Regions from separate parts of the Homo sapiens genome. Here regions 2 and 3 are each linked to region 1. Evidence: fine-mapped expression QTL. A gene starts in region 1. Each other region holds a variant in brackets. All regions are shown on one strand. Distances are from middle to middle. Region 1 holds the start of LHPP (phospholysine phosphohistidine inorganic pyrophosphate phosphatase). Region 2 overlaps LHPP (phospholysine phosphohistidine inorganic pyrophosphate phosphatase). Region 3 overlaps LHPP (phospholysine phosphohistidine inorganic pyrophosphate phosphatase).

Region 1 (9,738 bases):
TTTTACATTTTTAGTAGAGACGATGTTTCCCTGTGTTGGCCAGACTGGTCTCGAACTCCTGACCTCAGGTAATCCGCCCGCCTTGGCCTCCCAAGGTGTGAGCCACTGTGCCCGGCCTGAGAAGCATTTCTGTTATTAATGGTGCTCTGATTTTTTTTTCCACTATAGCCCATCTCAATAAAACAGAAGATTCTTTGGCTCATATGGCCCTCACTTGGTCTGGTCTCACTTTCCAGGGAGATGGGATTTGATAATAAGAAAGGTCTTGGTGACTGGTGGGCACCTGCTACTTTTGCCTATACCATGTTGCTTCCTTATTCCTCTTTCACAGTGCCCTGCTTTTTTGCTTTCTTTTCTCTCTCTTTTTTTTTTTTTAGAGAAGTCTTGCTATATTGCCTAGGCTAGGATACAGTGGCCATTCACAGTTGCAGTTGCAGTCATGTACACTATAGCCTCCAACTCCTAGGTTCAAGTGATCTTCTTTTTTTTTTTTGAGATGGAGTCTCGCTCTGTCGCCCAGGCTGGAGTGCAGTGGCGTGATCTTGGCTCAGTGCAACCTCCGCCTCCCGGGTTCAAGCGATTCTCCTGCCTCAGACTCCTGAGCAGCTGGGATTACAGGCGTGTGCCACCACGCCTGACTAATTTTTGTATTTTTAGTGGAGATGGGGGTTTCACCATGTTGGTCAGGCTGGTCTTGATCTTCTGACCTCGTGATCCACCCGCCTCAGCCTCCCAAAGTGCTGGGATTACAGGCGTGAGCCACCACGCCCAGCTTCAAGTGATCTTCTTGCCCCAGCCTTTGGAGTAGCTGGGACTTCACGTATGTGCTGCCACGTCCGGCTAATGCGCCCTGCTTTTTGCTGGAGGGCTTGTCCTCTCCCTTTCCTTCTGGTCATGGTGGGACTATAGGCAAGTGTCCCACCTCCAGCCCTGGTAAGGGCACCAGTCAGGCTGGAACATCACAGTATCACTTCCATTGGAACACAGACAATGGGGGACACTGACCCAAGAGAGCCAATCAGAGTTCTTTCTGGAACAGCCAGACCAAGTTGAGGAAAAGGATCCTCACCAGGTGGTGTACCGGAGACTCTGTGAGCCCAGAGCTGATAACCAGCCATGCCTGACGCTGTCCATTGCTAGACTATCTGGTTGTGCGAGCCAATAAATTCCTTTAAATTGAAGCCATTTGAAATTTGGCTTCTGTCACTGGCAGCCGAAGAGTCCTGACTATGACAAGCAAATCTGAAAGGATGAGGCATATGTCTAGTATAGCAATAGATGGTTGATAGATTCATAGTTGAGCTGAAATTCAGACATGAGTTGTAGATTTGCTATAACAGGCTGAAAGCTCAGTCAGTGGTGTATGCTTCCTGGCACACTATGGTGTTCATGTGCCACCTGGCTAGCTCTGGCCCAAAAGATGCAAATGAGAGTCCATTGGATCAGGGTTCTGGGAAAGCTTTTGCTTTCTGGGTATAAAGGGTCAGACTCAGCTGTCACATGCCCTTTTTTCTTTTCTTTCCCCTCCTTCCTGCCTGAAATGCAGTCATGATGCCTCGGGTGGAGCAGGAATCTTGCTAGCGTGAGGAGCAGGCCACATGCTGAGAGAGTGGTGGAGCAGAAAGCAGGAGGCAGCCTGATGGTCCTGGGAGCTGTTGTCCCATCCAGGATTTCCTCCCTCTTGGCTTCTTGATATATGAGGAAAAGTAAAATCTGATTTGGTTGGGCAACTATGGCTGGGTTTCTGTTACATGTAGCCAAATGCAACCCTAACATAGACAATGCCCTACACTCATTGCATCCCAAGAAAAGCCTGGAATTTTCAGATCAAGTTTTAGCCTATCAGTGGCCCACACTTAGAGACTTGCCACATTTTTCAGGTGAGGGACCTGGATCCCTGTATTTGTTTCTTGTCACTACTGCAAGAAATTACCATATACTTAGTGGCTTAAAACAACAGATTTATTATTATAGTTCTGGAGGTAAGAAGTCCTAAACTTGAAGTACCAGCAGGGCTGCATTCCTTCTGGAGGCTCTAGGGGAGAATCCAATTCTTTGCCTTTTTTAGCTTCCAGAGGCCACCTGCATTTCTTGGCTCATGGCCCCTTTGTATTCAAGGCCAGTAGCACGGTATCTTCACACCTCTCTCTCTGACCTCTGCTTCTGCTGTCACACCTCCTTCTCTGACTCTGACTCTCTCCTGCTTCCCTCTTTCCCTTATGAGGACTCATGTCATTATACTGGGCCCACCTGGACCATCCAGGATAATCTCCCTACAGGAGCATAGGCTCTGCAAGATCTAAGTCCCTTTTGCCATGTCAGGTAATATATTTAGAGGTTGTGGGGATTGGGAGGTGGACATCTCAAGGGGGCACTATTCTGTCTACTGTAGTCGTAGAAATGAAAAGGGACTTGCCCAAGAGTACCCACAGAGCTGACTGAAAAGAAACAACTATGGGTAGGCTCACACCACTGGCAGAAGCACCCCTTTTCCTCCTCCTTGGCATGAAGCTAAAGCCCAGCCATTCTCCAAGGTCCATTTCAGGCTGCCCCTGCCCAGAAGCCACAGCTGCCCTCCTAGGCCTGCAGAGGTCATCCTCTTGACTGTGTCTGTGTCACTCATTGCCACTTGGCACACATTTGGTCAGCAGTCGTGAAGGTCTTCCATTGTTCTCTGCCCAGTCTTGATCCTGGAAGGCAAGGATCACACCCTAGAACTTTTTTGTGCCCACTGCACAGAGTAGGGTCTCAATACGTGTACGGTTCATGATGTTCCTAGCAGATTCTCCAAACTGACTCACTCAGCCCCTGGAACACTAAAAACTGCATTTCCCAGACTCCTTTGCAGCGTGGGCTAGGTTCCACCAAGCCAGACACAGTGAAAGTGAGTGGGTGGCCACAGGTGGAGGGCACAGTGGTGGATATGTTTTGTTCTTTTGGGGGCAGCTATGCTGGGGGCTGCACTAAGTGATGGGGCAGTGGTCCCAATGGAGTAGTAAAATTAAGTGTTTCTCGTGGCTGCATGGCTCCTGGCTGTGTAGGACTTAGACCCGTCATCTGTAAGCTCCTTCACCTCATGTAAACAAAACCCCTCTAGCTGGAGTGGTGTCTATTGTCTGCGACTAAGAACCCTTATATAAGGTATACTACTCCCCAACCCCATTAGTGGAAATCCCAAAGGGTAGGAACTGTATTTTATTTCACTTGTAAACAGCTCCCCTAGTAAGCATGTCAACAAAATATACACAATTCATTGAACCCCATAACATTTCAACGAATTCCTCATCCTTTCTGTGAATCAAGAGCCTGAAAAGAAATGGTGAAATAATATGATCCTCTCTTCTTTGAAAGCTCAAAGCTATGTTGGACCAGAAGTAAAGTGTTCTCGTTTCTATTTAATAACTTGAAAGGTTCCGAGGGGCCATTGAGGAAACTCCTCCCTTTTAATATCAATGTGTATTTATTGCAAAAATAATGTAGCATCGAGTGGTATTTTATAGCTTATCCAAAAACCTCCTGGGTTTAACGCATTGTGATAGTCCCGTTTTCTTCTCAGCCCAGGTCCTATGCATCCTCATCTATGCAGGGCTGTTATCTGCATATAATTTTTTTTTTTTTTAAGACAAAGTCTTGCTCTGTCGCCCCGGCTGGAGTGCAGTGGTGCAATCTCGGCTCACTGCAACCTCCGCCTCCCAGGTTCAAGCGGTTCTTCCGCCTCAGCCTACCGAGTAGCTGGGACTACAGGCATGCGCCACCACACCTAGGTGATTTTTGTATTTTTAGTAGAGACAGGGGTTTCACCATGTTGACCAGGCTGGTCTCGAACTCCTGATCTCAAGCGATCCACCCGCCTCAGCCTCCCAAAGTGCTGGGATTACAGGCATAAGCCACTACGCCCGGCCTCAATTTTGTATTGTACTTTTTCTTTCTTTCTTTAATAGAGACAGGGTCTCACTATGTTGACTAGGTTGGTCTAGAACTCCTGGGCACAAGCTGTCCGCCCGCTTCTGCCTCCCAAAGTGCTGGGATTGCAGGCGTGAACCACCGCCCCTGGCTACAGGTGCCTTCTTGTCTCAATTTGCCTTTGACCTTTCTTAGGGACTTGTTTTCTGCTTTTCCTGCTCTTTGTCCGCTGATCTCCTGGGAAGAAAGCTTCCGAAAAGGACACCGTTTCAGGGGCGAGTGACGCCGGGGTGCCCAGGCCGCGCCCCAGTTCCGGGTTTGCACCCGGTCTTCTTGCCCTGCCCCGCCCGCGGGACTACAGTTCCCAGGCGCCCCTGCGCGGCCGCGGCGCCGGCGCCGGCGTCGGTTGGGACGCGGAGCTGAGGAGCAGGGCCGGGCGCCATGGCACCGTGGGGCAAGCGGCTGGCTGGCGTGCGCGGGGTGCTGCTTGACATCTCGGGCGTGCTGTACGACAGCGGCGCGGGCGGCGGCACGGCCATCGCCGGCTCGGTGGAGGCGGTGGCCAGGTGAGTGGGCCCCGGGACGCCGCTGGGGCCGCCGAGCTCTAAGCTCAGCCCGCTCCCTGGCTGCCGGCAGGGGGCGGGGCGGCAGGGGGCGGGGCCGCGGCGCAGGCCCCGCCTCGGTCTCCCCCTTCCCACCCCGGTGCGCGCACAGTGCTGACCACGGACGACCCCACTGTTGCCCCCGGCGAGCACCAGGACTCTGCTGGTTAGGGCTGCGCGGTCAGACAGGGCGGCCACCTGGTACGTGCGCTGCTGAGCGCTTGACCTGCGGCCAGTCTGAATTGAGATGTGCTGTAAGCGTAAAATGCATACCGATTAACAAGACTTAGCCGGGCGCGGTGGCTCGCATCTGTGATTCTAGCACTTGCAGAGGCAGAGGAGGGAGGATCGCTTGAGGCTAGGGGGTTGGAGACCACCCTGGGCAACATAGGGAGACCCCGTCTCTGCCAAAAATTTAAAAATTAGCCGGGTGTGGTGGTGCACGCCTGTAGGCCCAGCCACTTGGGAGGCTGAGGCAGGAGGATCGCTTGAGCCCAGGAGGTCAAGGCTACAGTGAGCTGTGATCACCCCACTGTACTCTAGCCTGGACTGCAGAGCGAGACGGTCTCATAAACAAAACCCCCAAAAACACCAGACTTCGTGAGTAAAATGTAAAATAAAAACATGAAAATGGGTTATGTTGTTTGCCTGTTGAAATGATATACTTTTTGTTTGTTTTGTTTTGTTCTTTTCAGATGGAGTCTTGCTCTGTCGCCCAGGCTGGAGTGCAATGGCACGATCTCGGCTCACTGCAACCTCCGCCTCCCGGGTGCAAGTGATTCTCCCCCTTCAGGCTCCCGAGTAGCTGGGATTACAGGCACCCGCCATCATGCCCAGTTACTTTTTTTATTTGTTTTGTTTGAGACGGAGTTTTGCTCTTGTTGCCCAGGCTGGAATGCAGTGGTGCAATCTCTGCTGACTGCAACCGCCGCCTCCCAGGTTCAAGCGATTCTCCTGCCTCAGCCTCCTGAATAGCTGGAATTACAGGCATGTGCCACCACACCCGGCTAATTTTTTGTATTTTTAGTAGAGACGGGGTTTCACCATGTTGGGCAGGCTGGTCTCTAACTCCTGACCTCAGGTGATCCACCTGCCTCGGCCTCCCAAAGTGCTGGGATTATAGGCGTGAGCCACATGCCCAGTTGATAATATTTTTAATATACTGTTTTAGGTTAAAATATTTGAAATTAAGTATACCTTTTTTTTTTAACTTTTGTTAATGTGCTTATTAGAAAACTTTAAATTACCTTTGTGGCTCTCATTATAATTCTGTTGGACTGCATTGGTTTAGGTGAGAGGAGGAGGAAGAGAACATCGTGCCAGCCAAGACTTGACCATGAGGACACTTTTTTTTTTTTGAGACAGTTTTGCTCTTGTTGCCCAGGCCGGAGTGCAGTGGCGCCATCTGGGCTCACTGCAACCTCTGCCTCCCAGGTTCAAGTGATTCTCCTGCCTCAGCCTCCCAAGTATCTGGGATTACAGGCACCCGCCACCACGCCCAGCTAATTTTTGTATTTTTGGTAGACATGGGGTTTCACCATACTGGCTAGGCTGGTCTCGAACTCCTGACCTCAACTGATCCACCTGCCTGGGCCTTCTAAAGTGCTGGGATTACAGGCGTGAGCCACCGCACCTGGCTGACACTTTTCTTTGTATAATTTTTTTTTTTGAGACAAGGTCTCATTATGTTGCCAGGGTGGTCTTGAACTCCTTGGCTCAGGCAGTCCTCCTGCCTTGGTCTCCCAAAGTGCTAGGATTACAGGCATGAGCCACCACACCTGGCCTAATTTTTTTTTCTTTTTTTTTTTTTTTTTTTGAGACAAGGTCTTACTTTGCCACCCAGGCTGGAGTGCAGTGGTTCAATCTCACTGCAACCTCTACCTCAAGGGCTCAAGAGATCCTCCCACCTCAGCCTCCCAAGTAGCTGGAACTACAGGCACGTGCCACCATGCCCAGCTAATTTTTTTGTGTTTTTTGTAGAGATGGGGTTTTGCCATGTTGCCCAGGCCGGTCTTGAACTCCTGGGCTGAAGTGATCTGCCTGCCTCAGCTCCCAGAGTTCTGGGATTAGAGGTGTGAGCCACTGTGGCCAGCCAGAAGGACACTTTCAGTAGCATGGTTGGCACCACTGGACCTGGGCTTTGTAAGGCCTCCTGTTGGCATCCCAGGTCAGCACTGCCATGTGTTGATAGGCAGCCGGGAAGGGCTAACTGCCAGGACTTGGCCTCCCGGAGTCACTAGCTGAGGCACCCTGGCTTGGTAGCCTGATGTCACTGGGACTCAATATACCTATCTGTAGGTGGCAATTAACTGAGTCTCTTGGTCCTTCTTAGAGACCCCATTCTACCAATCTGCATGTCTGATGTCTGGGAGCTGCTGAGATAATAGGGACCCAAACGGTCCCGCATAGTGAAGCCGGAGGTGTTTGGGAGGCTGGGAACTGGGAACAGGGAGACTTGGCTTCCAGGAGCAAGCACAAAGGGCAGCCCAGACCTAGGACACTCCGCTGGGTCCTGGGTCTGCTCTCAGTGTTGGCTGAAGTTCAGGGTTAAGTGCATTCCTGACCTTATTCTCCATTACTCCAAAGCTTTAGACTAGCTCAGTCACAGATGAGAGCATTCTGTGAGTGGCACTGGTGGGAATCCAGCAGAGGGCTCTGGGCAGTGTTTTGGGGTGAAGTGGGCCTCATCTGGGGAGCAGGAAGCCAGAGCTCAATGCTGTGACTGGGGCAGGCAAGGCCTCATGGGAGACCCTGCCACTCATTGCTTGCGGAAGATACATTTGACATTATCTACCAGTGGTTCCACTTCTGAGAATTTGTCCTTGTCTCATGCGTGAGAAATGACATGAGTACAAGGTCATTCCTGGCAGTACCTTTTAAATAGCAAAAGACTGGAAACAGCTCAGATACCCATCAGTAGGGGAGTATTAGGGTCTGATGTGTGGAGGGGAGAGGGACAGTAAAGCTGCAGGCACACAGGTAAATCATCCTCACAGGTGGGCACACGGGTAAAGCGCATCATCACAGGTAGGCCTAAGGGGTGTGAAGACGGGAGGGTACTGAGAGTGTGATGGACGAGGGTGGCCTGTGCTAGAGAGGGGGTCGGGACAGCTCTGAGGAGAAGGCACTGGACAGACCCGGAGGGATAAGAGGGAACTGTCTGCAGGAAGAGGCGGAGGAAGCGCATTCCAGGCAGAAGGAATGGTAGCTGCAAAGACCTCAGGAAGAGAGCACTTGGCGAGTTCGAGGGCGTGGGGTGGGGGAGTGGGTACACCAGGCAGGAACTTGAGGGGCACGGAGAGGTGTCCGGACTTTATCCTGAGTGGCAGGAAGTCAGTGAAGACTCTAGATAGGCATATCATGTGGTCTGATTTATATGTTTTAAAGAAATACAAATGTAAAAAGTGAGACATACAAGTCAAATGAAAGCAAGGGAGATTTCCTTTGAAACCTTGGAGAGAAGGCCTTTACATCCAGGCCTTGAAATCTAGAAAGCAAAAACAACGAACAAGCAGCCCAATAGCAATATGAGCAAAAGATGCAAACAGGTCATGGAAGAGGAAGTGAGAGAGGCTCCGCCTTACTCAAATAAGAGGTGTGTGATCTCGGCTCACTGCAGCCTCTGCCTCCTGGGTTCAAGCCACTCTTGTGCCTCAGCCTCCTGAGCAGCTGGGACTACAGGCATATGCCACCGTGCCCAGCTAATTTTTGGTATTTTTAGTAGAGGCAGGATTTTACCATGATGGCCAGGCTGGTCCCGAACTCCTGGCTTCAAGTGATTCACCCACCTTGGCCTCCCAAGGTGCTGGGATCACAGGCGTGAGCCACTGCGCCCAGCCTGAGAAATGCAAATTAAAACTATATCAAGCTGCCCTGTTTCATCAATTTGACAAAATTGGCCAAAATCCAAAAGTTTGAGAACACTTTCTCTGTGAGAGTTTGTGGAAACAGACCCTGCCACACATTGCTTGCAGAAGATACATTTGACATTATCTACCAGTGGTTGCGCTTCTGAGAATTTGTCCTATCTCGTGTGAGAAAGGACACAAGTACAAGGTCATTCCTGGCAATGCCTTTTAAATAGCAAAAGACTGGAAGCAGCTCAGATATCCATCAGTAGGGGAGTTTTAGGGTCTGTCTGTTTATACAGCAGAATAACATGCAGTGTAAGAAGGAATGAGTACCTTGTCTATAGACATATTACTAGTGGAGACAGCAAGCACACAGCAGGATGCACGGTGCGCTGTTTCTGGTATAGAAAATGCAGAAATGCAAGAATGTATTTCTCCTGCTGTGTTTGCATAAAGACACTGGAAGGACGCAGGCTGCTTCAGAGTCTGGGAAGAGCTGGAGGATAAGGAAAGTGGGGGCCACTGTGTGGTTGGAGACAGGGTAGGAGAAAGACTCTTCACTGTATAACTTTGTATACCAACGTTTTTGTTTTTGTTTTTGAAACAGAGTGTTGCTCTGTCACCCAGATTGGAGGGCAGTGGTGCAATTTTGGCTTACTGTAACCTCTGCCTCCTGGGTTCAAGTGATTATCCTGCCTCAGCCTCCCGAGTAGCTGAGATTACAGGCACCTGCCACCATGCCTGGCTAATTTTTGTATTTTTAGTAGAGATGGGGTTTTGCCACATTGGCCAGGCTGGTTTCGAACTCCTGACCTCATGTGATCTGCCCACCTTGGACTCCCAAAGTGCTGGGATTACAGGTGTGAGCCACCGCGCCCAGCCTGCATATCATTTTTAAGATTTTTAAACTATGTGAATGTGTTTTCTATTCAAAATATTACAATTCAAATATTAAATTGAATATTAAAATTCAAAATATTAACGTCTGGGCACAGTGGCTCATACCTGTAATCCCAGCACTTTGGGAGGCTGGAGGTAGAAGGATTGAGACCAGCCTGGGCAACACAGCGAGACCCCCATCTCTACAAAAAATACAAAAATTAGCCGGGCATGGTGGTGCACGCCTGTAGTCCCAACTACTTGGGAGGCTGAGGCAGGAGAACTGCCTGAGCCCAGGAGTTTGAGGCTGCCGTGAGCTATGAATGTGCTACTGCACTCCAGCCTGGGTGACAGAGTGAGACTCTAAAAAAAAAAACCATTGTTTTTTAAATAAAATATTTCAAGGAGATCTCTCTGGCTGCAGTGTGGAGAACAGGCTGGCAGTAGGGCAGGAGGTGGGGGGGCTTGGACTGGGTAGAAGGCAATGGAGATGGGGAGGAAGG
Region 2 (9,738 bases), 35 kb after region 1:
TAACCCTTGTAGTCCCTTTTTAAACTTACACCCATTGCAATTTAGGTCGCTGCTATGGAGCAAGCCACAGAACCTGGCCTCTTAACTCATTTACCCGGGCTGACCCATTAGGCCTTTGAGTCACCAACACCTCACTAGAGAACAAGCATAATGAAGAAGCTCTGCTGTAATTCGTTAATGTTAACACTTTTTTCTTTAAAGATGTCTCATGCTGAGCTTCGTGGCACACGCCTATAATCCCAGCACTTTGGGAGGCTGAGATGAGAGGATGGCTTGAGCTCAGAGGTTCGAGACCAGCCTGGGCAGCATAGTAAGATTCCGTCTCTACAAAAAAGAAAAGAAAAAAAGTTGTCTCATAATTATTAAAAACCACTATTCCAGATCATGGATAATAATAGTCAGAACAGGTATATTGTTGAAAAAGAAAAAAAAAAACCGGAAGCAGTCGCTTTCAGCTTTGTAATACCGCAGCAAATGTCATAGTAGACAAGGGTTTTTTTAAAGTAGGAGATTAGTGGCGTCTCTGCTGATGGGGGTTCTGGGTGTTTAAAAACCAGAGAAAGGAACCGGCGGTTTTAGGGACTAGGTCCCAGCTTCTCAGGACAGCCTGAGGACCCCCCGAGAGCTGCCATCACCATGCCGTCCTCGGCTGTGGGTCACTGCTGGTGAGGTCCATCCTGCACTGCGGGACACAGGGGCACAGGCTGAGCGGTGCCCACCAAGGAGGCAGGAGCAGCGGGTGGAGGCGCCGGGGCAGACTGTCCCTCTCCTGGAAATGGAGTGATTTACATTTGGCATCTGTTTGGACCCCAGAGTGGGAATTGGCTTTGTAATTTCTTCTGTCATGCCGCTCTCAGAAAATTAAGCTGTTTACCCGACAGACTATGGAAGGTTAACGGCTCTTCTGGGAAAGGTCAAGTGGTCATTTGCAGGGAGGCTGTGCTGAATAATCTGAAACGGCAGAAGAATAAAGCATAAAATCGCATCTGACTCCTCCTCCCGGGCTTCCCCCTTTCTTTCCAGCATCCACGGGTTCCTCTTTGTGGCTAGAACATTCACGTCCTAAGTGGGGCTGCCGTTGGCTGGGTTAAACCAGTAACCAGTAACAGGAGAAATACGTCGCATCTCTAGTGTGTGGAGATTACCGGGCCTTTATATTAAAAAAAAATTTTAAGTGCTTATATTTGCTCTGTCTCTAAAAAATGTTTCCAGGTAACAGTTGGCCTCAAGATGCCTTTTTGTTTTTCTGAATGAATAAGGAATAAAGAAAAATTCTGGGCACTATAAAATCAAGCCCAGATTCAGTTTTTTAAAAAATAAACGTTAAAGTTTCTCATTTTGATTTCTGGAAGTTCGTGTTCTCCTTGGACTCTAAAGATTAGCATGCAAAGACAAGGTTTTGATTGTGTATTTTCAGTTGCACGTTCAGTTTTTTTAAAATCCCATCCAGGACTAAATTTAAACATAAGAAAATCCAGGTTTCTTTCGCTTTCGAAGAGGCTGCAGGGAACTTGAGGCCAGAGGAAGTGGCGCCGCGTGGGTCCCCTTAGGAGGTTTTGCCAGATGATGGGAGGTGCTTGCTCCCGTCCACCCAACCTCTAGCTCCTCCAGCCGGCCCCAGGGTAGCTGAGGGACAGGGGTCTGGGCCCAGAAGCCCCCAGAATCCTCAGCTCCAAACAGAGCTGTACCTGTCGCAATGGAGTAGTTTTGTTGATTTCAGGTTTTCTTTTGTTGCTGGGTAAGCATTTCCTGTGTGGGGTATATTCTTTCCTCCGTCCTGGCTTACTTCCACACATCACTTCATTAGGGAGGCCCTCCCTACCCACCTCGATGCCCTCCTTCTCCTGGCACAGGTGGGCAGGAGGGGACGAGGGTCATGGCCTTTGAGGGCCTGCAGAGGGCCTTGCCTGTGGTGGCGTGGCCACCCTGGTCCTCAGCAGGGTGCTCAGTGGATTCCAAGGTGCTCCCTGGACCCGGACCTCCCCTTCACTTCCTTTTAGCTCAGGTCTCAGCTTTCCATGCCTCTGCTGCCTCCCTGAACCCAGCCTGTCCCCCGCCCTGTTCAAGCAGACTGCCCCTCCCCTGGGTCCTGCCCTTTAAAGTTTGTCTGTGGGCTTCTTTGCTTCCCCACCAGACTGTGAGTCCCTGTGGAGCAGGCTGGGGCTGGGAGTATCCCTGAGTCCTGCAAAGGGCTGTGGAGCATCTGGGATCGTTAATGCCAAGGGGGACCAAGGTAACCTGGGCCATTTGCAGCACCAGCCAGTGCAGGCCCCAGGACCCGGTGTCCCCTCACTGTTTCCTGAGAACTCTGGACCCCACTAAGGAAACCATCAGACCAAAGTAGCTGATTGTCCAACTGGGAAAAAGAAAAAGCAGTACTTTTTTAGGCCATGTAAATGCAAAATATACATTTGAAGTCTGCGTTTAAGACATGAACTTAGAGATTTCTAAGCCTGTTTTTGGGGGTCACTCTAAAAGGGAGGGCATTTTCAGGTCCCCCCTCTGTGAGCATTCACAGCATCCCAGCCAGCCTGTATCCCTGTGCCGTGACCCCAGAGCACAGAGCCTCAGAGGCTGTGGAACAGGCCTGGGGTTCACGTGGAGAGTCCCAAGCCCACGTCATGACAGGAGATGCCCACACCTTCAACAAACAGACTCCAAGCTCCAAAGCTGCCTAACAGGAGTGGCAGGGGGACCAGCCCTGGCAAGGCCCAGGTTTGGCTGAAGCCCGTACCTGCAGCCCAGCTTGTAAGTTTAGCCGGGAAGCATCTGAGGCAGGCAGTGGAGGACGCACAGGGGTGAGCGGTTCATCTCACAGGTGTGGCTGGGTGCCTGCTACAGCTTCAAGGCATCAGGTGGGGCAGAAAGGGACAGGCAGGGTGCCCAGGAGTGGCGGAGCTGGAGGAAGGGCACAGCCCCAGGGCAGCTCCCGAGGAGCTCAGTTCTCACACCCCAGGTGGTCACAGAACACATTTCAGCCCCCAAATTGAACAGGGCTGTGTTCATTTTTTCCTTCCCCCAGCTCATCTTATTGCTTGTGTCAGCCTGGGTGAAAGGTTATTTATAATAATATTCTCCTGTCTCATCTGGGCAGCTTCTGCATGGAAGGTACCGAGTTAATAACTTTGCATGCGTTATTTTGTTCAAGCTTCACAGCAATCCGTGAGGTAGGTATTGTTTGTTGTTCGTTTTGCCCATTTTACAGATTAGGAAACTGAGGCCCACAGGCGTAAGCAACCCAAAGTCACACCGTTAGAAGGCAGTGAGATCTGAATGCTCAAGTCAGCATGCGCTCTTCTTCCCTCTCGTTTTCTGCATACGTGCTTTCTCCACGTCTCCCATATCGTAAGGGCATGGCAGGAGGAGAGGGAAACTGATGTGATGGTGGATGGCAAAACATTTTAGTGGTTCCAAGAATCAAGCCCCCTTGTGTATTCTTGGCTTTCAATGAACTGCGTCTTCAGAGCAGCGCAGGTTAAACCACTTTCTCGCCTCATTGTAGTCAATTGGCTTAGTTCAGCCAGAGCCAGGTCTGGCCCACCATGTGTCTGGACTGTGAGTGCCTTGAGGCTCAGTGTGACGCGATCGTAGGGTGAGCCTGGCCGGGCTGCAGCCAGCCACCAAGCCAGCCCTGGGCTCAAAGAGCAGTGAGGCCATTTTGAGAGAGGAATGCTCCCTCGTGCAGAGCCTGTCTCCACCTCCATGAGACGGGAAGGAACAGTTGTCTTCTCATAAAAGCATCTGGCGCCCATGAAACCTGGCACCTCGCTTGACCTCCGGCTAACGGGATGCGGCAGGGTGCTGTGGAACTAATGGAGTTCTCTTCTTCAGCCAGCAATTAGGGGTTAATTATTAGCAATTAGGGGTTCGCCACATACCCCGTGGACCTGCTGTTCCTTCCCAGGACACAGGTCACTTGTCATTCTCTGTGTTAGCAACTGAAACCGTCTGCCTTCTGGGTCCCCTGTTAATCATTGCAGCAGGGTCCCCACGAGTCTGACAGCAGGGTTGCGTTCTGTGCGACCTGTGGCATCCCTGGAGCTGCTGGCTGCTGCGCTCGCCCCACTGGGTGTGGCGGCCTGCCGCCCGGCTCTGTGGTGCTGGTCCCCTGCGGTCATTCTCAGCGTAGCGCCTGGACTGCCCCTCAGCCGCGGCTTGGCTCTGCAGCCAGCGGGACAGGCCCGGTGCTCAGCTCCCGATACTTAGCATCCTGCGGTCAGCTCCCCGTGCTCAGCATCCCGTGCTCCGTTCTGCTCTCTCCTAGGCGTTACTACAAGGAGACCTCTGGCCTGATGCTGGACGTTGGTCCCTACATGAAGGCGCTTGAGGTACCAGCCCTGGTTCTGTCCCAA[A/G]CTCTCTTCAGACCTCAGGGCACCTGGGACTTTTTGGGTCTTTGTTGAGAAGAGGCTGTGCTTAATTAACGTACAAATGGCCTTTTGGGCTTCCACAAAGGCTGCCTTCCTATTCTGGGCTCCCCTGGCCGGGCCCTCGGGCCCTCAGGCCCTCAGCTGTCCTCCTCCCTCCCCATCTCTCCCTTCCCATCCTTCCCATCCTCCCCATCCTCCCCATCCTCCCCATCCTCCCCATCCTCCCCATCCTCCAGTGGGCGCAGCCCCCCCTGCCCGCCGTGGACCCTGCCGCTCTCCCAGCTGCTCTCTGCCACACTCCTCTCGGGCTTGTGGCTTCTGTATCAGTGCTGACCACCGCTCTCATTCCTGACCCTGGGCATCTGCAGCACCTCAAGCTTGACGGGTCCTCACTGGCCTCCTTCCTGACTTCCCCTTCAGTTTCCAAGGCCATCTGTGGCCAGGCCTCCGGGTGGGGCTCCCCTGGGTCCACTCTGGCCCAGGTCCCATTAGCTGCCCCAGGTCAGCCTCACATCCCGTCCCATCCTCACAGCTGCAGCCCCTCCTGCCTGCCTGCCGTCAGGTGGGAGGGAGAGGCAGACGAGCAGATGGAGCCCTGTGATGAGCTGCGAGTGGGCAGGGGAGAAGAGGGGGAGAAGGGATGAGAGGACGGAATTGCAGGCGAGTGAGCAGAGCACTGCTCTGCTGGCCCTTGGGAGCCCTGTAGTTTTGCCAGCTCTTGGATGCCTTCTGCTGTGGGTAGGCCTTTGAGTGGATGGCAGGGTGCCTGGTGCTAGGGGACCTGAGTGACCCGGGCAGCCCTTTCTGGAGTTGTGAGGCTCCTGCCTGTGAGATGAGTTCTCAGGCCCACAGCATCCTGCTTCTTCAAGGCCCTTGACTCTTGGGGGCACATTTGGGACAGTGTTTCCGTGGCTGGGCATACACCTGTTCCTTGATCCCAAACTTATGCCATGTCCCTCTCTCTTTTCCCAGTATGCCTGTGGCATCAAAGCCGAGGTGGTGGGGAAGCCTTCTCCTGAGTTTTTCAAGTCTGCCCTGCAAGCGATAGGAGTGGAAGCCCACCAGGTAGGTTGGCGCCTTGTGAAGTGGGTCAGGGGAGGCAGCCCCGTCAGGGAGGCCCTGGAGCTTGGAATGGATTACAGGACTCAGGCAGCCTGTGGGGTTGGCCAGGCAGCCAAGCGTGGGCTCCCTGTGAAAGCTGACCTGGCTGGGAAGGAGGGGGAAGACAGCAAACGAAATCCACTGAATAGTTTCAACCGTGAAGTTACTTTCAGTATGAAAGCAAGAAGCAGAAATGCCTGCGGCTTTTCCTGAGTTTTTGCTGCTTCTCTGAAAGGATAAGAATTGACAAGTCCTATCAGTGTGTTAATATATCTCACTGGCAAGACAGTGTAACAGCAAGATTACAACAATATGGAGGAAATAATAAAGTCACTCATTTTGCGACCTTTATATTTTGACTATTTTGGGATAGATTGCCTTTCAAACTTCCAAATTTTAGAAAGGAAAAAGAATCGGTTATGATTTTATTGTCTACACCTACCCCAACCCTAAGTGAGTCTGGCTTCGTCCTCCAGTGGGTTTTCTTTTCTTTTTCTTTTTTTTTTTTTTTTTTTTTTGAGCCAATGTCTCCATTTGTCACCCTGGCTAGAGTGCAGTGTAGTGGCACAGTCATGGCTCACTGCAGCCTGGACCTCCCAGGCTCAAGCGATCCTGCCATCTCAGTGCCCCCTTAACCCCCTTACTAACCAGGCCCCCCCCCCGCCAACCCCAACTGAGTAGCTGGGACTACAGGTATATGCCACCACGCCTGGCAAACTTTTTTTTTTTTTTTTTGAGACAGAGTCTCACTCTGTCACCCAGGCTGGAGTGCAGTGGCGCTGTCTCGGCTCACTGCAACCTCCACCTCCTGGGTTCAAGCAATTCTTCTGCCTCAGCCTCCTGATGAGCTGGGACTACAGGTGTGCACCACCACACCAGCTAATTTTTTATTTTTAGTAGAGACAGGGTTTCACCATGTTGGCCAGGCTGGTCTCAAATTCCTGACCTCAGGTTATCTGCCCGCCTTGGCCTCTCAAAGTGCTGGGATTACAGGTGTGAGCCACCATGCCCAGCCCCGGCTAACTTTTGTATTTTCCATAGAGATGGGGTTTTGCCATGTTGCCCAGGCTGGTTTTAAACTCCTAGCTCAAGCCGTCCTCCTGCCTCGGCCTCCCAAAGTGCTGGGATTACAGGCATGAGCCACCAACACACAGCCCCCTCCAGCAGGTTTTCTGAAAGATTGTAAGGAATAGTGGGCAGCCGGCATGGAGGCTGACGCCTGTAGTCCCAACACTTTGGGAGGCTGAGGCAGGTGGATCACTTGAGGTCAGGAGTTTGAGACCAGCCTGGCCAATGTGATGAAACCCCATCTCTACTAAAAATACAGAAAAACAAAAAAAATTAGCTGGGCGAGGTGGTGCATGCCTGGTAATCCCAGCTACTTGGGAAGCTGAGGGATGAGAATTGCTTGAACCTGGGAGGCAGAAGTTGCAGCGAGCCGAGATCATGCCACTGCACTCCACCTGGGTGATAGAGTGAGACTCCTTCTTTAAAAAAAAGAAAAAAGAAACAGAGTCCACAGCTGCCCCAGGCTGTCCTGCTGCCTCCTCAGAAGTGGGCAGCAGAAGCATGGGTTGGGGGTCCCTCAGGTGTCAAGCCTGGTGCATGTTTCCCCTGTGTGCATTTCGGTCCAGAACACTGGTGCCTCATGGTGCTTTGAGAAAGATGGCCCAAAGCTGCCAAAATCTAGACACTGCACCTGCACCTGCCCTGAGATCCATAGAGATGTCAGAAGATGCAGGCTGTCTGGAGTCCCCAGAAAACACCTGGGAAATGTCACATTAGTCTGTTGAGAAGGAAAGGTTTGTGTTTTGAATGAGTGAGAACTGCAGCAATAAATAACCTGGCTTTTTACTACCTTGCTTCATAGGGCAGAATTTCTTTTTTTATTAGAGATTTCAAACATACAGAAAAGTAGAGAGAATGATACAGACACCCCATTATATCCATCATCCAGCTTCAGTGGTTAAGATTTTGCCACATTCCTTTCTTCTATCCTCTTTTTTTTCCTTTTAAAAAATTTACTGGCTGGGTGTGGTGGCCCACGCCTGTAATCCCAGCACTTTGGGAGGCTGAGGCAGGTGGATCACCTGAGGTCAGGAGTTCAAGACCAGCCTGGCCAACATGGTGAAACCCCGTCTCTACTAAAATATAAAAATTAGCCGGGTGTGGTGGTATGCACCTGTAATCCCAGCTACTCAGGAGGCTGAGGCAGGAGAATTGCTTGAGCCCAGGAGGTGGAGGTTGCAGTGAGCCGAAATTGTGCCACTGCATTCCAGCCTGGGCGACAGAGTGAGACTCTATTTCCAAGTAATAGTAATAGTAATGATAATAATAAATTTACTTATTTTTTTGCTTCATATTTTAAAGCAAATCTCAATTGTATCCTTTCATGTTGTAGCATGACATTTAAAAATCACGATTTTTGGATGTAAATACAATACATTAAAACTCCTAACATGGCCAACAGGCATACAAAAAGATACTCAATATCATCATTCATCAGGAAATGCAGATCAAAACTCCAGTGAGATACCACTTCACACTAAGATGACTGTATAGTTAAAAAAAAAAATAGAAAATAACAAGTGTTGGCAAGGATGTAGAGAAATTGGAACCCTTCTCTATTGCTGCTGGGAAGGTGAAATGACAATGCTGCCACGGAAAGCCACTTGGTGGTTCCTCAAAGTTAAACATAGAATTTGCCGTATGACTCAGCAACCCATTTCCAGGTCTATACCCAGAAGAACTGAAACACGTGTTCAAACAAAAACTTGTACACAGATATTCATAGCAGCTCCATACACAATAGCCAAAAGGTAAAAAAAGCCAAGATACCTGCCCATCAACTGATGAAAGGATAACCAAATGTGGTATGTCCATACAGTGGAATATTATTCAGCCATAAAGAGGAATGAAGTTCTGACACATGCTACAGTGTAGATGAACCTTGGTAGCATTATGCTAAGTGAAGGAAGCCAAACACAAAAGGACACATATTGTATTCTTCCATGTATAGCAAATGTCTAGAATGGGCAAATCCATAGAGATGGAAAGGAGATTAGTGGTTGGCAGGGGTCGGGTGCAGGGGAATGGGGAGTGCAGCTTCAGGGTACGAGGTCTCCTTTTGGGATGATACAAATATTCTGGAACTGGGCCGGGCACAGCAGCTCACACCTGTAACCACAGCACTTTGGGAGGCTGAGGAGGGTGAATCACTTGAGGTCAGGAGTTCGAGATCAGCCTGGCCAACATGGTGAAACCCCGTCTCCACTAAAAATACAAACATTAGCCAGACGTGGTGGTGTGCACCTATAATCCTAGCCACTCGGGAGGCTGAGGTGGGAGAATTGCTTGAACCCAGGAGGTGGAGATTGCAGTGAGCCGAGATCGTGCAACTGTGCTCCAGCCTGGGCGACAGAGCCAGACTCTGTCTTAAAAAAAAAAAAAAAAAAAAGAAAAATATTCTGGAACTGGACAGTGATGATGGTGGCACGACGTTCTGAATGTGCTCGATGCCAGTGAATTGAATACTCTGGTCACGGTCATAAATTTTATGTAATGTGTATTTTACCACAATAAACATTTTAAAACCACCTAAAAAATTAACAGTGATTTTTGTTAGTATTATTTAATAGCAACCCATATTTAAATTTCCTTGACTGTCTCAGAAATGCTCTTTTACCGTTGATCTGTTGGAATCCAATCTGAAGAAGCTCCGTGACTTGTGTGTCGTTTTTATGTTTTCTGAGCCTCTCTTTTTAGCCCTCCATCATAGAACATTTGAAATATCTATGTCAGTAGAGAGGGCAGCTCAGGGAACTCCTAGGTACCCATCACTGTGCTTTAATAATTATCAACTAATAACCACTTTAAAATTGTTTTCAACTTTTCATTTTGAAGTAACTTGACACTCACAAAAAGTTGCAAACATAGTACAAAATGTTCACGTGTACCGTTCAGCAGCTTCCCCATCATCATCGAGCAGTGATAAAACCGGGAAATCAACACTGGCACAAGGCGGTTAGCTAACCTAGAGAGCTTATTCAGACACCACCAGTCATCCCACTCATGGCTTTCTGGGGACACGTTGCATGTAGCAGTCATGACCCTAGTGTCCTTTATCTGTGAACTCTGATCACCTGTTGAGGAGGTGTCTTCCAGAGTTCTCTACTGTCATTGCTATTTGTCCCTTTCAGTAATTATCTTTTTTTTTTTGAGACGGAGTCTCGCTGTGTCACCCAGGCTGGAGTGCAGTGGCGCTGTCTCA
Region 3 (9,738 bases), 140 kb after region 1:
GAGGTGGGGCCTGCTCTCCAGACAGTCAGGTCAGCATGAGTTCCCATGAGGCCAGGGCCAGCACGAGGAATTGCTGGGAGCGGTCCATCCACCCATCCGTCCGTCCATCCATCCATCCATCCATCCATCCCTATCCACCTGTCCACCCTGATGCAGTTCCTGCCATCCACGTGTCCATCTGTCTACCCGTACACCTGTTCATCCCCATCCATCCATCCCCCTGTCCATCCCTGCCCATTCATCCACCCTGATGCAGCGCCTGCTACCCACCCTTCTCTGTCCATCCCCATCCATCCATCTCTGTCCATCCATCTGTCCACCTGTCCATCCCCCTATCCATCCCTGTCCATTCGTCCACCCATCCACCCTGATGCAGCACCTGCCATCCACCCTTTTCTGTCCATCCCCGTCCATCCATCTCCATCTATCCATCTCTGTCCTTCCATCTCCATCTATCCATCTCTGCCCATCCATCCATCCATCCATCCATCCACCTGTCCATCCCCATCCATCCATCCCTGTCCATCCATCCACTCATCCACCCTGATGCAGTGCCTGCCGTCCACCCTTCTCTGTCCATTCCCATCCATCCATCCATGTCCATCCATCCATTCATTGCCCATCTGTCCACTCACCCATCCACTCATCCCACCCACCCATCCATCCACCCATCCGTCCCCAGCCATCCATCCTCCTGTCCATCCCTGTGCATGCATCATCCTTCCAACTGTCTGTTTGTCCATTCCCATCCATCTATCCACCCATCCACCCAGGCGAGCACCTGCCATGCCCACGACCTGCACCATCTCGGTGAATCTCCATCGTAGCCCCAGGAGGGGCTCTTTTCAGCTGCACTTTCAGGATGAGAGAAGGGAGGCTCTGAGTGGCCATTTGCCCAAGGTCACACAGAGCTCAGGGCCAGCGCTTCCCATGGCCAAAGCCCAGGCCCCCTCTGCCAGTCCCGCCTCCAGGCTTGCAGGTGGAGCAGCCAGGGGTTCCGTACTCCCTGCCAGGCAGCTGCCAGCCCTCCCCGCTCCCCTCTCAGTTCCTCAGCCTGGCTATGGGAGGCCCAAGTCCCACGTGTCACTGGAATTCGGGAGGCCTGGCTCTCAAAGCTTTCTGTACAAAACAAGGAGAAAAAGAGAAGCCACTTTTGCTGTCTGGACATGCTGTGGGTGTCCTGGGGAATGTGCTGGCCCACTGCTTGGGGCCTGACTTGGAGTGCCCAGGAGCTGCGTCTGCACTGTGGCTTGAACCGAGTGTCGTGCTCTGTGGACAGAGCCATCCACTCTGGGGGTGCTCGTCCCATGGCACTGTCAGCCCCCATTCTGGAAGGTCCCAACTGGGTCCCCCAGGCCTGTGTCCCAGAGACCTTCCAGGTCTTCATTCACTGATCATGCATTTATTTTGGGGGTAGGATAGGTCCTGAAGACCACAGGGCAGGGATCTCTGAGTTGGGGCTTTTGCGGAGTGAGGGAGTGAGAGGGTGTTCCAGGCAGAGGAGGTGGCAGAGAAAGGCACCAAGTGAGGCAGGGGCAGTTGGGGACATGAGTGCTCGGGAGCGGGGAGAGGGGGCAGCTGGTGGGTAAGCAGAGGCCAGCTCCAAGGCCCCCCTGTGGGCCACATTAGGGAGACAGGGTCTGGCCTTGTTGGTAGCGCGGCCCCTCGCAGTGATGGGTCCCCTGTCAGACCTCCAGGATCCTGGGTTGCTGGTTTGGCGCAGCCCCGGCTTCTGTGAGCTTTTGTTTCTGTTACTGGCACCTGCAGCTCTTCCTAGGCCCCTGCCCTGGGGCACTGGTGCCTGCTTCGCCAAAGGCACAGAGGGCTGCAGGCGACTGGGGCAGGGTGGGGGGCTCGCCTCTTAGGGCTCAGCTTCACTGGCCAGAAACAGGGCTGGCTCGATCTGGGTGTTGGCCTGGGTGGGGTGGCCAGCATGCCCACACCTCTCAGTCTGGATGTGGGGAGAGGTTGTTCCATCCAGGGCAGTTGGTCTCCAGAAGGAAATTCTCTGTATCTGGGTGCTGCAACCTAGGTGCCCGGGGTCTCACGCAGTGGGGCCTCCCCGGAGGAGGTGAAGTGCATGTGGCCCCTCGTGCTGGATGGAGCTGGACTCTAGGGAGGACCAGGAGGGTGAGCTCAGGCCAGGGCGCCAAGGCCCTGAGCCCCAGGGGCCTGCCTGTCTGCCCATCATTCCTCCACTCATGGGGAGGGACTGCCCCCCAGCCCAGATTTCTAGGAGGGCCGAGGCTCACAGGAAGCCAATGCCAGGCGATAACCCACAGTCCCCAGTGGTCAGTAGGAAGGAGGCTGCCTGCTTGTGTGCTCATTAGGAGCCAAGGCCATGAGGCCACTAACGGAATGTCCCTGATCTCAGGGATCTCAGTGTGGAGGTGGCAGCACACAGGTAACCAAACAATTGTGGCAGATTGATGGGTGCTTTGATGGGGTCCACACAGTTACCGTGGAGTGCAGAGTGGGCACCTAACTGAGGAGGCAAGGGTTGGAGGGAGGAAGGTTTCAGGGAAGACTTCCTGGAGGAGGTGACTTGTTCTTAGGGAATGAGGCCCAGGGAGCTAAAGCTTTAGGGCAGGGCAGCAGATTCAGAGACACCCCCAGGGGTAGGGGGAAGTGCACTAGAGTGACGTGTGCCTGGCGTGGGAACAGGGAGACATTAGAGAATAGTGGGAGTGTGGCAGGCTGGGCCCGCCTTGCCCCTTTCAAGGAAGCAGCTGCCGCGTCACACGCTGCAGCGCAGTGCTGCCCATGGTTTGTCGGCCCATATTGTGGGATCTTTCAGATTTTCTCAAGAAGCCAGGTTTCCAGCTCCTAGGTTTGAAAAGTTCTATGTGCGCTTGACCGGGGGGCCTTACGTACGTGAATTGGGTGAGGGCCTGAGACAGGCGGGTGAGCACTTGCCCCACACTCCAGCCAGGATTGGGGGTTCAAGGTACCGCATTTGCCACGTGAGGGAGTCTCTGGAGACCACCAACCCGCTGGTGGGCGGCCAAGCGTCACCACCAGTCCCTCTCAGTGCGTCCCACCTCTGTTCTCAGCCCCTGCGGTGCCCGCAGTCAGTGGGGCAGTGAGAACCGCGCAGGAAATAGCTGGCGCCATGGTGTCGGTTCTGGTTGACAGAGTGCCACCTGGCTAAACCCAGCCGTAAATAAGCCCCGTTTCCTCCCTGTGGACAGAGACTGGTGGGTGCCAAGGTTCACGGCAAAAACCCTTCCCCGCCAGGCCCCACTGCTCTCTGCCTGGCTGGCACACGCCCTTGCCTCAGGCCTGGCTCCCCGGGTCCTGTTGACCACCAGGCTGCAGATCCCAAGGAATGCAGGCATCTGGGTGGCCCCACGTGGAGCACCAGCCATGGGGAGGCCGTGGGCTACCAGGCCCTGCGTGCACTCGCAGCATGCACCACTCCTTCTCCAGGTCCCGTTGACCTCCATGTGTGCTGTGCCCCGTCCTCCGCTGCACTGCCTCTTCGTAGTGCCCCAGCTCCATCCGGGGGTGGGTGGGAGTGGAGACCCCTGCCTACAGGCCTCCGGGTCTAGCCAGAGTCAACCAGCCCACCAGAGACACCCAGATGCAGGCTATGCCCCACGTGCCCAGGGAGGATCTGCTGACGTGAGCCCAGATTTCGATTCTTGTGCGAGGGAGACGAACCAGGTTTAAACCCCAGCTCTGCCACTTCTGGCTGTGACTTTGAGCATGGCTGTTCATCTCTGGGGGTCTCTCTCCTCATCTCAGAGAAGCAGATCATGGTGCGCACCCCATGGCGCGCTGTGCAGAGCACATAGAGACGCCACCCACAGCTGGCTTACTGCAGAGGTGTGGGCCCATTGTGGTATCGCTGATGTCCTGGAGGCCACAAGTCTGCTAGCTAGAGGAGCCTCACCTGCATCCCGGGGCCTGCCCACTGGCTGGTGGAGAGCTCTGGGTTGTGGGCAGCAGGCAGGCCTATTTCCAGTGAGTCTGTGGCTCCTGGGGGTGTGTGAGACCTTGGGCAGATCCCTTCCTGTGCCTCGGTTTACCCACTAGGGCTCAGAGCCCTGGGGGACTGGCTCAGTGAGTGCCTCCTTCTGCGAGGAGAGACTTTTGTCCTTACTAGCCAGAGGACAGGTCAGCCGGGGCAGGCTCTGGGCCCTGGGCACCACCCACTGGAAGGAAAGGGGGTTCAGTTAGCCCAGCCCTGCCCCCCAATGGAAGAAAATTGGGGTTCAGTTAGCCCAGCCCTGCCCCACCCCAGCTCTTCACACATCCAGATCCAGATGGGGGCCAGACCACCAGGAGACTGTAAGGATCCAAGGCCGAGGGGCAGGAGACGCAGTGCGCCCCTCTCCTATTTCTGGGTTGCAACCGCCCACACATGTGCACACAGGGAAGATGTCTCTTTTGGTTGGGGGGCACAGGACCCCACCTCACTCTTAGCTCTGAGACACCCTTGTCAGGCCTCCTGGACAGGTGGGAGGGACAGGGCAGGGTGGGGTGTGGCCAGCTGCAGTCCCTGGGAGGGGTACTGGGGCTGGGCCAGGCCAGGGCAGGACAGAGTTGGGGAATCCAGGCCCCTCACCATTGCCCTGGCTCTTTGTATGTAGTGCTGCCTGCGGGCGGCAGCCTAGCTGGACACCTGCAGTGCGCTCATGCCCAGCCTCTGTGGGTGTCTGGCTCACCCCACGTGGGAGGAAGGCGGGCACGGGTGGTTTGGGCTGGGCAGGCCCAGCCCGGGTGCACAGCTTTCTCATCCACACACACATTCCATGTGTAGGGGCTCAGGGGGAGGGGTCACCTCCTCCCTCCCCACCCCTCCTTGTTACAGAGGAGCAGATGGCCAAACGGATGGGGGACAAGCACCTGACAGGGCCACTGCTCCTGCTCTCAGCTGGGCCAGTGGGAAAGGGAGCTTGGCACCTCCAAGGGAGGTCCCAGCCAGGGGAAGTGTGTCCCCATCCCTGCTCTGGTCCCCAGGCCAGAGAGGTGAGGGACCCAGAGAGGCCCAGGATGAGGACTCCTTCAGTCCTGGGTTTTTGTTTGGATTTTTTTTTTCTGCCAAGTGACTTCAAAGCCGCCCGAGAAGGTCCTGTATGTGTGAGCAGGTTGGGCAAGGGGAGGGCGGGTCTCCAAGCTGGGAGCCTCCTCGCGGCCCTCGCCTCGGCACTGATGTGGCCCTGGACCCTCCGGTCCCTCCAGGCCACCCTTCGTGCCAGGACCCAGCTGGCTTCAATGGCAGGAGGTGCCCTGGGCTGGAGGGTCCCCACGCTGGGCTCCGGGGCTCCAGGTTGACTCAGCAGTCCCCAGGCCTGTGGGCAGAGCTGGCCTGGGAGGACACGGGCCTGAGGGCTGAGCAATCCCTGAGTGAGAACAGGTAGCTGAGGCTGGAGCCTGTGTCCCCCAGGCA[G/C]CTGCTAAGGCCCGGGCCTGGGGCTGGAGTGCTGGGCTCAGGTGCCATGTGAGCTCTTTGCAGGCAGGGACCAGGTCAGAGTCCTTTGTGTGCCTCTTGACCCCCAGGTCCTGGGAGAAGAGGGGCTTGGGAGGCCTTGGCTGGATGCACAGGCTCCATGGGAAGGAGCTCCTGCTCGGGTTTCTTTGTAAGCAGCACGACATGGCACCTTCCCAGAGGTACATGGGTCTGGGCATGTCATTCCCCGACCTGCTTCCAGAACCCAGGGGACGGAGGTCGGAGCAGCCTGCCTGAGATCTGTGGCCATCTCCACTCCGCCACCCAGCTACCCCGTAAGGAGGCCACCGACCCTCGGGCACCTGCCAGGGACCCAGCTCAGGCCAGGTCACGGGCTGGATGTGGGATGTTCTGGGCCTTCTGCCCACCTCACTGGGCCCCAGCAAGCTGCTGTCCTGAGGGTGGCCGTGCTGGGCCAGCACGTGGACAGCAGGGAACCCCATGGGCACAGGCCTAGTGTGTGTGATGTACCGGTGCAGACCATCTGATAAGCAGCCTTCAGAGAAGCTGCGGGTGTGCAGGTGGAGGCAGACCTCCCAGCTGCATCCTCCAGGCACTTGCCAGGGTCAGGCTCTGGTGAACACCCTTCTAGAAATAACCCCCCAGGCCCCCGGGGGTCTTGGGCTCCTGGGGTTCTGATGGAAGGATGCCCCTTGCCCGGCCTCACTACCTCCACCTCATGAATCACCCTCTGTCCTTGTCCTGCAAGTCTGTCGGCACAGCCGAGCTGGCGTCACCCTCTGATGCCAGTGCCCAGATCCCTGAATTCACTGGGCAGCCGCCCCCTGCACCTGGCTCCCAGCCACTGCCTTTCCAAAGCAAATGGGGACAGGGATACCTGCCCCTCCCTGGGTAGGCAGCTGTTGCGGCCTCCAGTTGTGAGAGTCTCTGCCCCACCCTGCCCCTTCCCCTGCCCCTGCAGGGTAGAGAGGAGGCGGGTGGGCCACCGACTGGGAGTCCCGGGCAGCTCAGGTCCCTCAAGAGCCCCTCGGGGAGAGGCCGCACCCGTCTCCCTTGGTCAGTGTTCCCCAGGAGGCGGTGCTGGCCTGCGTGTGCCCTGGAGGAGGCGGCAGGGAGACTGGCCTCATGGGGCTCTTTTGCTGGGGCCTGGCCACCATTTTCCTTCGATTGGTACAAAGACTGTCCCTGTGAAGCTGGCCAGGCCCCAGGCACAGAACCGCCTTGTTTTCTGCCTCTCACTCACCCGTTCCCTGCATTCGGCTGACAGAGCATGAGGGGGAGGAATCACTGATGACAGGCACTGGCCTGCCCAGCTGGGGGCCTTTGTTTATTCATTTGGTGGGCACTTCCTGGGTGCCTGCTCTGGGTCAGGCCTGTGGGGGGGACCACCGAGGGCAGGAAACCTGGCCTGTCCCTCCAGGAAGCGAAGTCAACACTGGCACCTGCAGATGAAGTGGCAGAGCAGCCCCCAGCTTTGATGGCATGGGGTGGTTGGAGGGCACATTCTGCATGCTCAGAAGAGAGAGCAACTCGCCCTGTGGAAGGAGCATACAGTGGGAGATGGGGACAGGTGAGTGGGGTCTTGAAACGTGAACAGGAGTTTGCAGGTGGAGCAGGTTTCAAGAGCATTCCAGGGCACAGCATGGGCAATGGCAGGGAGAGCTGGGATGTCTGAAGAGCAGCAGCCCAGACACTGAGTGGCTGGCGAGGCGAGGGAGGTCCGCAGGTGGGGCCCAGTCAGGATGGACTCATCTGCCATGCTGAGGAGCCAGGCTATGATGTGGGCAATAGGGAGCCACAGCAGTTTACACAGGGGAGGCGGGAGCAGCTGAGCATTTAGGGAAGCCACTCTGGCTGCAAAAGAGGAGAGGGGGCCAGGCAGGAGGGAGAGCCAGTGGAGGGGGAGGGGGAAGGGGAAGGGAACAGGCTTCAGCAGAAGACCTCCTGCCTTCAAGGGGCCCGGGTCACCCTGTGGGTTCCGGTGGTTAAGGCCAGCCTCCTGGTCCTGCAGCCACATGCCTCCCAGCTGTGTGCCTCCGCTTCTACCTCCGAAACCCGGGCAGCAGGACCCACCCTGCAGGCTCCTGCGCAAGGATGGGGGAGGTACCTGGAGGGCCCACCCCACATCAGAAGCAGGTCCTCAGCCAGAGACGCCCAAATGCAGCCCGAGGGAGGCTGCCCCCAGGAGAGGAGAGGAGAACCCGCAGCCGCCCCGCAGGCGCCTGGGGAAATCACTCACTGCTCCCACCTCCCAGCCAGGCCCCGAGGGCCAGGCACTCTGGCTTAGTGAAGAAGCCACCCAGCAAAGGCCTGGTGTCTCCACACCATTCTCGGGGGGACAGCAGCAAGGACGATGGACGGGAGCAGTGCTCAGCCTTAACGTCCCTGTTTCCGGAAGCGTCCCTGCCCCGCTCAGTCCTGCCCCACTCCCTCTCCCATCAGTGCCCTCAGACTCCAGGCCCTTTTCTTTCTTTCCCAGCAGTGCTGACAACTGTGAGTGTGGAACTGGACTGTGAACCCTGGAGGGCAGATGGTGGAGGTGGGAGGGGGCAGGGCCAGCGCCAGGGTGAGCTGCAGGGTCCCCAGGTGCAGGGGAAACGCCAACTTCGTGTGCAGTCTTGCCTCTTTTGTTTCGTTTCAGAGTGGCCCCCAGAGCCAAGCCCTATGCTACCTTACAGATGAGGAAACTGAGGCTCGGGCAGGTGAAGAGACCGGCCCTGGGCCATGCACTTTTTTGGGGACAGAGCAGGGTGCTCAGCTGTCTGGGGGCCTGGGCTGGGCCTGGGGCAGGGGGAGGAGCAGCGCTGTGACCCCCACGGGGAGCCGTCAGCCAGGCCCGTAGCCAGGGAAGGGCGGAGGGGCTTAACGCAGGCCCACATGGCCAGGACACAGAACCGTGGGGGCAGCCCCAGCCCTTCCCTGCCTGTTACAGGCCCCTGCCCCTGTTCCTGTGTCCCATGCCTGTCCCCTCCCTCCATGTGTCTGTCTCTACTCGCCTGCCCTCTCTCTGCCCTCTTTTCTCTGCTTCATCCTCTTTTTCCGTTTCTGCCTGTCTCATGGTTCTTCCTGTCCCTGCCCTCCCTCCCTCCGTGTGTGGCCGTGTCTCTCTGTCTGTCTCTTCCTCCTCCTCCAGCTCTGTCCCAGTAGGGCCACTCCGGGCAGGATGGTCTGCGGCCCCTCCTGCTTCACCCTCTCCGCTCTGTACCCACTGCCGAGGACACACCTTTGCTGGGTTTCTTGGTTCAGCTTTTGTACCGTGACATCTCTGAGGTCCACAGGTCACAGGGCACTGGCCAGTGTGGGGCAGGGACTCCTCCTGCCCAGGCCATTGGACAAAGCAGAGCTGCTTCAGGGGCTTTGGGGCCACCAGGCCAGGAACAGGTCCCCTCCTGCCTACCCCAGCTCCCTGGGAGACACAGCCCACAGCAGCGTCACGTAATTAAGACATAAAAGTCCACGATTTCCGCTGCGTGTGGGCAAACACCGGCCGGGTGCTAATGCAATCCTTTCTTTTAGTGGATTCTTGAATTTAAATGATATGTAATTAAACATAATTAGCCACGGACGCCATTCGGCTAGGTACACGTGCGGAGTGGGGCTGGCCGGATTCTCATTACAAAGCGTCATCTTCTATGGGGAGACCTCTTGTTCCCTCTCGGGGCTGGTTGCTTTTGCCTGGACAATAAGCCTGGCCCCAGGGCACCTGGGGAAGGTGTCCAAGGAGGGGGTCCTGGGGGCCAGTCCCCCGGGGGCTCGGATGATGAATCATGGGCGGTGTTTGCTGGAAGAATTTTTGTTCCGCTTCGGGCAACAAGGAACCCAAACCTCTCACTGTTGTGGGGAGAAAAGTTGGAAATCAGATGGGAACTGGCTGCGGTACCAGAGAGGACGTCAGACCCGGGCCGCGGCCTCAGCCCCCGACTCCTTGTAAGCGTGGGCTGGGTGCACACGTGGCGGCTGCGAGCAGTGCTTTGGAGCTCATCTCCCCAGACCCTAGTGGGAGCTGAGGGCAGCCTGGCAGGGCTGATGCAGGCCCATGCACACAGGCCAGGCAGAGGTGAGACCAGGGAATAGAAGCGTTGCAGGGGCAGAGGGCAGGAGGGGGCAGAGCCTCGGCGTAGGAGTGAGCCTACTGGTCCTTCCCGCAGGCACCCTCCCTAGTGCCAGGTCTGCTGGGACTCCAGGCTGTTGGTATGCCCCCTAGGGTCCTGCTTGGAGCCTTTCTGACCCTCCTGATCCAGTGCCTGTGCCGGGCTTCCTCCCCACTCACCCTGTCCTCCCTGTGCCCCATGTAGCCCACACATCAGTGTGTCCGTCCGTCTGCC

Evidence for each region. PIP is the estimated chance that this variant, and not a neighbour inherited with it, causes the effect.
Region 2: its variant is fine-mapped to the expression of LHPP in whole blood (INTERVAL, PIP 0.96).
Region 3: its variant is fine-mapped to the expression of LHPP in B cells (Fairfax 2012, PIP 0.95).

Annotation. Positions count from the first base shown.
Region 1 is chr10:124,457,519-124,467,256 of GRCh38, forward strand. It overlaps LHPP (phospholysine phosphohistidine inorganic pyrophosphate phosphatase), which reads left to right and starts at 4,305. Exons shown (of 7, transcript NM_022126.4): 1 at 4,305-4,469. The coding sequence starts at 4,345. RefSeq lists a silencer at 4,185-4,644 and enhancers at 6,161-6,661, 6,662-7,162.
Region 2 is chr10:124,492,697-124,502,434 of GRCh38, forward strand. It overlaps LHPP (phospholysine phosphohistidine inorganic pyrophosphate phosphatase), which reads left to right. Exons shown (of 7, transcript NM_022126.4): 4 at 4,265-4,328; 5 at 5,340-5,432. Among named protein-coding and RNA genes, the nearest start is that of LHPP, 36 kb to the left of the region's middle. RefSeq lists enhancers at 2,504-3,081, 3,082-3,659, 3,660-4,237. The variant A/G (reference allele first, on the strand shown) is at 4,353.
Region 3 is chr10:124,598,533-124,608,270 of GRCh38, forward strand. All of the region lies in intron 6 of LHPP (phospholysine phosphohistidine inorganic pyrophosphate phosphatase), which reads left to right. Among named protein-coding and RNA genes, the nearest start is that of FAM53B-AS1, 100 kb to the right of the region's middle. RefSeq lists an enhancer at 7,365-8,309. The variant G/C (reference allele first, on the strand shown) is at 5,396.